Regions from separate parts of the Homo sapiens genome. Here region 1 is linked to region 2. The links come from fine-mapping of genetic effects on gene expression. A gene starts in region 2. The other region holds a variant in brackets. All regions are shown on one strand. Distances are between the middles of the regions.

Region 1 (2,909 bases), 28 kb before region 2:
AAAATAAAAAAAAAAAAAATCACCCCAATTTGCATATATACATATAAATCTTTTTTTTTTTTTTTTTTGAGAGTTTCACTCTCAAAACTCCTGGGCAATAGGAGTTTCACTCCTGTTGCCCAGGCTGGAGTGCAATGGCGCGATCTCAGTTCACTGGAACCTCCGCCTCCCGGGTTCAAGCGATTCTCCTGCCTCAGCCTCCTGAACAGCTGGGATTACACGCGCCCACCACCAAGCCTGGCTAATTTTTGTATTTCTAGTAGAGATGGGGTTTCACCATGTTGTCCAGGCTGATTTCGAATAAATCTTCTTTTAACCAAAAAAATGGTATATCACATTTTACATACTTCCCTGCTCTAAGCTTCATTTGCCTAAAATTGTATCTTCATCTTTCTATCTTGGAACATAGACATCTATCTTGCTGTCTACCTCTATCTCCCTACTCCAAGTCACCAATATCTGTCACCTAGACAACTGCCATAATCTTCCAACTGGTCACCTTGCTTCCACTCTTGCCCTGGTATAATCCGTTCTCCAAACAGAGAGAAAAACATTTTTTAAGTAAAATCTGCTAATGTCAAGATTTCTGCTTCTAAATAGAAGGGAGTAGTTGACAGGCCAATGTTTCTGCTAAGAACTGGAAAGGGTGGATAAAATAGAAAACCATCGTTTTAAAGGCATTGGAGAGCTTTGGAGGCAAAGGACTGGAAGCATTAAAATTCCACAAAGGGGACCAGGGGTGGTAGCTGACACCCGTAATCCCAGTACTTTGGAGGCTGAGGTGAAAAGATAGCTTGAGCCTAGGAGGAGTTTGAGACCAGACAGGGTCTCAACATAGCAAGAACCTATCCCTTAAAAAAAAAAAAAAAAAAAAAAATTAGTGGCTGGGCGCAGTGGCTCACACCTGTAATCCCAGCACTTTTGGAGACCAAAGTGGGTGGATCACAAGGTCAGGAGTTCAAGACCAGCCTGGCCAAGATGGTGAAACCCCATCTCTACTAAAAATACAATAGCTGGGCGTGGTGGCGGGTGCCTGTAATCCCAGCTACTCGGGAGGCTGAGGCAGAGAATTGCTTGAACCCAGGAGGTGGAGGTTGCAGTGAGCCGAGATCGCACCACTGCACTCCAGCCTGGGTGACAGAGCAAGACTCTGTCTCAAAAAAAAAAAAAAAAAAAAAAAATTAGCTGGGCATGTTGGTGCACAGCTCAGCCTCCCAAGCAGCTAGGATTAAAGATAACCATTAGCATTCTTTCATAATATTTTTAAATTAAGGTATTTATATTGCTTTGGACATAATGCTATTGCACAGTTAATAAACTACACTATAGTGTAAACTTGATTTTTTTACACAAGGGTCTTCACTAGGTTGTCCAGGCTGGCTTTGAACTCCTGGGCTCAAGAAATCCTCTGCCTTAGCCTCTGGAGTAGCTGGGACTACAGGTGCACGTGCCACCACACCTGGCTAAAATAACTT[T/C]AATGCACTAGGAGACAAGAAAATGTGTGCAACTCACTTTATTGCAGTGGTCTGGAACCAAGCCTCTGAAACACAGCTACATATATTTATCTGGGCTGGGATCTCCTTGAGGACACAAACTGCCTTACTCACCCTTGTATCCTTTTCTCCAGCTTAGCGTCTGGCTCCCAAGTAAATGCACAATGCTTTTTGAGTGAATGAGCCTCACTCTCCCAGCTCTCCATTCTCCTGGCTGTCAGTTCTGCTGTGGAGTCTCCAACCAGCTGCTTCCTCAGGCCCTCATACTGGGCACATATCCCAGCAAGGGCCACGCCTCCTTGACCTAATCCTGGCTCTTGGGCCACCTTGGTTAATGGACTGCTCTTCTCAGAGTTCCTCAGGCCCTTAAGACCTGGGATGGCTCCTGCCTCACATGCAACAGTGGCGAGAGGCACCCATGATGATCTGATGCCGGATGAAATATGCAGACTTAGGTACTGTATTACTGCTTAGACTTAGGTAATGTATTCTACTGCTGTCCCCTCCACTGTGGCAGACATCTGTCATCAGTTACAGCTTCCTCAAGTGGACCCAGATTCCTTCCCCTGGCATCTGTTCAAGCAGCCACAGCCAGTTGGCAAAAGGTGGCAAAAAAGTCAGGATGGTCCTCAAAGGCCAAGGCAGAAAAAGGACCTGTGACTTCTGGATGCTTCTGCAGGGAACTGACTGCTGGTATGGTGCCTTTAAACATAAATGCCTGCCCCTTAGGCCAGGCATGGTGGCTCACACCTGTAATCTCAACACTTTGGAAGGCCGAGGCGGGTATTTACTTGAGGTCAGAAGTTCGAGACCAGCTGGCCAACATGGCGAAACCCCATCTCTACTAAAAATACAAAAATTAGCTGGGCGTTGCGGCACATGCGCATAGTCCCAGCTACTTAGGAGGCTGAGGCACAAGAATCACTTGAACCTGGGAGGCAGAGGTTGCAGTGAGCCAAGATCACACCACTACACTGCAGCCTGGGCAACAGTGAGGCTGACTCAAAAAATAAAAAAACAAAAAACATGAGAAAAAAAAAAAACAAAGAATGCCTGGCAGACCATTAATGTGCCAAATTCATCAAGACAGGCTTACCAGCGTGATTTTTGCCCCAACTCCAGCCAAGGTGGTTTTAACTTCAAGTGGGGAGATTAACTGCACCTTTTCACCATGGCCCCTGGGACATGTGTAGATTCCTCCCTCTGTGAATCAGAGATGACAGTTCATGCGTGCACATCCTTAGATCATGTCATTGCTGCAATTTTTCTTTCTCTTAAAAACAGGTCTCACTCTGGCACCCAGGCTGGGCTGCAGTGGTGCCATCATTAACTCATTGAATCCTCGAATTCCTGGGCTTAAGCAATCCTCCTGCCTCAGCCTCCTGAGTAGCTGGGACTACAGGAGTGCGCTACCGT
Region 2 (2,909 bases):
AAAAAAAAAGTTTGTGGAATTCAGAATAGCATTTCTCAGAAAGCCCCGCTACTGCTTGCAAACCTTTTTTTCTAATGACCGTGCACAGGTTTCACTGTCACAGGTTTAATTAAAGTCTTCTGCTTGATCTCAAGTAGCGTGGAGAAAAAATTCCTCAAAAGTGTTGCCATTCAGAGATATTTTCAAGGGACTTTATTAGAAGGACCATCATTTAAGGATGAGATGGTATGACAGAGGGTGACTCTGCTACACCAGGGAAGAACATGCTAGGGAAAACACCTTCTTTCTTTTAAGTCAAGTGTTTTCTGTGTCATCAGATTGCCCAATCATCCCTGGCATCTCTGCTTCTCAACCATAGGCTATGATGTGTATGGTGCTCCCATGAGTTGTGCAGTACACGACCTGCACAACCATATGTGGCAGTCCTGCCTACCCTCAATGGAAGCAGGATGGAGATGTTCCCCTGGGTAAACGTGGCATATGTCCCTCACTATAAGCAAAAAATCAGAGCAAGTGTGAAGTCAGAAGTCCACCCAGAGAGAGAGGCAGAGTTGCAGGACAGGGATGGAATTCCAGTTCTGGTGTTTGTTGTCTTGGAGGCCCAGCTTGACCTCTGCCCTTCCCTTCGCTTGATTATATAAGTTTTCCAATAATGTATTTTATTTTTAAAGCGTAAGTTAGGTTTCTATCACCAACACATTCTATCTAAAAGCCCAAGTCTTTTCCTTAACTTGTCCTAAATGGCCAGTTATTAAGAAATTCCATTGAGGGTTTGGCTGTTGCATACAGCCTTGTGGGCATTTTGCTTATCCACGTTGACTTTCTCATCTGGGACACTGGCCTACGTAGTACGTGATTCCAGCAAACAGGGCAGTATGTTGAGCTCTTGAAATAAGTATGTTGTGACAGCCTTTGTTACAGCATTAAAAGAACAGTCTACTCTCAATGGCTGACCCTTTATTTGTATGCTGACGTCAAAAACAAAACAAGACTGCAGACACACTCTTGCCAATGCTAGAAAGGATGCATGTTTGAAGTGGATTTTTTTCTATTTTTTTGCTTGGAGAGGAGGGTGTGTGGACACCAAGCTGGCCATGGTCCAAGCTGACCTATTTGCCAGCCGACCCCTGTCTGGGCTGCCATAACAAAGTGCCATCATGAACTGGGTGGCTTATAAACAACAGAAATTTATTTCTCACAGTTCTGGAGGCTAAAAGTCCAAGATCAAAGGCACCAGTAGATTTGGTAAACTAGGAAGCGGTGAGGGCCCACTTCCTGGTTTATAGACTGATGGCTGTCTTCTCACTGTGTCCTCAAATGGAAGCTGATGTTTCACAAATATTTTCTGGGTAAATGGATGGGTGAGTGAACTCATGAAGGGATGCTCCATTAGATGAACGCTTGGATAAAGGGCGTTAGTGGAGGGACAGAATTGCAGCTCCGTCCTCCCAGGGGGCGCTGCAGGCACGTCTGCTTGGGCAGGGGCCCGGCGGAAGCGCCGCTCTAGGCTGCAGCCGCGCCCCCAGCCGTATTTCCGCGGGCGCTGAGCACTAGAGAGAGCGTCTTGTGGCTGCGGCCTGCCCCTCAGCCTCCTCCGCGCGGTTACCCCTGTACCCGCCGCCATCCGTCCTGGCGCTCCGGATGAGTCAATGAGGGGCAGGGCCCGAGGAGTGGTCTTCCCAAGAACCCCTGGTGGCCTCCCAAGGCCGGTGCTGTGTACCTCCTCCCCGACAAAAGGGGAAACTGAGGCCCCGAGGGGAGTGGGAAGAGCCGGCTGGACGTCAGGCCCAGCCGCTGGTGCAGTGGTCCGTCCCCTCTGCCGGGGTGGGCCCCTCGGGTTTCGCGTGTCCTCGGGAAAGAGACTGGCGGGTGAGCCGCGCCCTCGGCCTTCGCTGGGCTAAGCCGACCCCATGCAGACGTCAAACCCCCCTAGGTCGGCACAGCCTCTCTGCGGGGAGGCTTAGTGCCCCCTTGAGAAACGGCTTGGCAACGCTGTGCCCGGGGCCTTGCACGCGGGCTGAGGGGGCTAGAGACCTCGCGACTTTTACTCCCCCGACCCCGATCTCCGACTCCTGACTTTGGAAGCCCCCAAAGCTGCTTTTCGGTTGCCTACAAAGTGTCGGTCATTGTGCCACGTCCTTGGAACCGTGAACTCATTTTCTCCTCAATAACCTTTAAAAAGTAGCTGTAAAACCTCCATTTTACAGACCAGTTGGCTGAGGTTTAAATGGAGGACGCTCCCAGGGCCCCAGAGGGGCGAATTCCAGACTCCTTTGCCAGGACCTTGTACTAAGCCCCTTCCCTACGCTTTTCCCTGCCTAGGCCTCGTGGGCTGTGCGGCTATCCTGGAGACAGATGACAGCTCTCCCTTGGATGGCTTTGCTGGTTCCGCACCAGCCAGCGCCCCCATTTTTCCTGCAGCACCCTGATCTGCACTCCCTGAGGGGCTCCCACTGTCCGCGGTGTGAGGATGTCCCTGGGTAAGTGGTGCTGGTCATGAGCACTTTGGGGGACCCTTCAAATTCCCTTCTGGGGGACCCCAGCGGAGGGCATGGTCATGAATTCCGAGAACTGTATGGCAAAGCCGGGTGCAGAGGAGAGCCTGGCTAAGTTCTTTCATTCTCCTGAGCTTGACTTTCTGTAATGTAGGGAAACTGCGAAAGCTCTGTAAGTGGGGAGATCTTGCACGTTTTTCTTGCTTTTGAACCCATGATGTCTGGCTACTTGTAGATACTCAATATTTGTGGGATGAATGAACAATTTAAGCCTTTTTTTTTTTTAACCAGAAATTGGTCTTCTGTGACTTTCTTGATGGGGGCAGATGAGATCTTTGTACTGCATTAAGTGGATAGCGCTCAGGTCCTTTGGGCTTGGCGCTTTGGCAATCTCCAGGCAGCTCACTTTGGCCT

What was found. PIP is the estimated chance that this variant, and not a neighbour inherited with it, causes the effect.
Region 1: its variant is fine-mapped to the expression of SNHG11 in whole blood (TOPMed, PIP above 0.99).

What each region holds. Positions count from the first base shown.
Region 1 is chr20:38,416,985-38,419,893 of GRCh38, forward strand. It overlaps LOC124904901 (a long non-coding RNA gene), which reads right to left and starts at 28. Exons shown (of 2, transcript XR_007067582.1): 1 at 1-28. The variant T/C (reference allele first, on the strand shown) is at 1,476.
Region 2 is chr20:38,445,144-38,448,052 of GRCh38, forward strand. It overlaps SNHG11 (small nucleolar RNA host gene 11), which reads left to right and starts at 1,511. Exons shown (of 5, transcript NR_003239.1): 1 at 1,511-1,869; 2 at 2,323-2,480. RefSeq lists enhancers at 1,347-1,396, 2,346-2,900.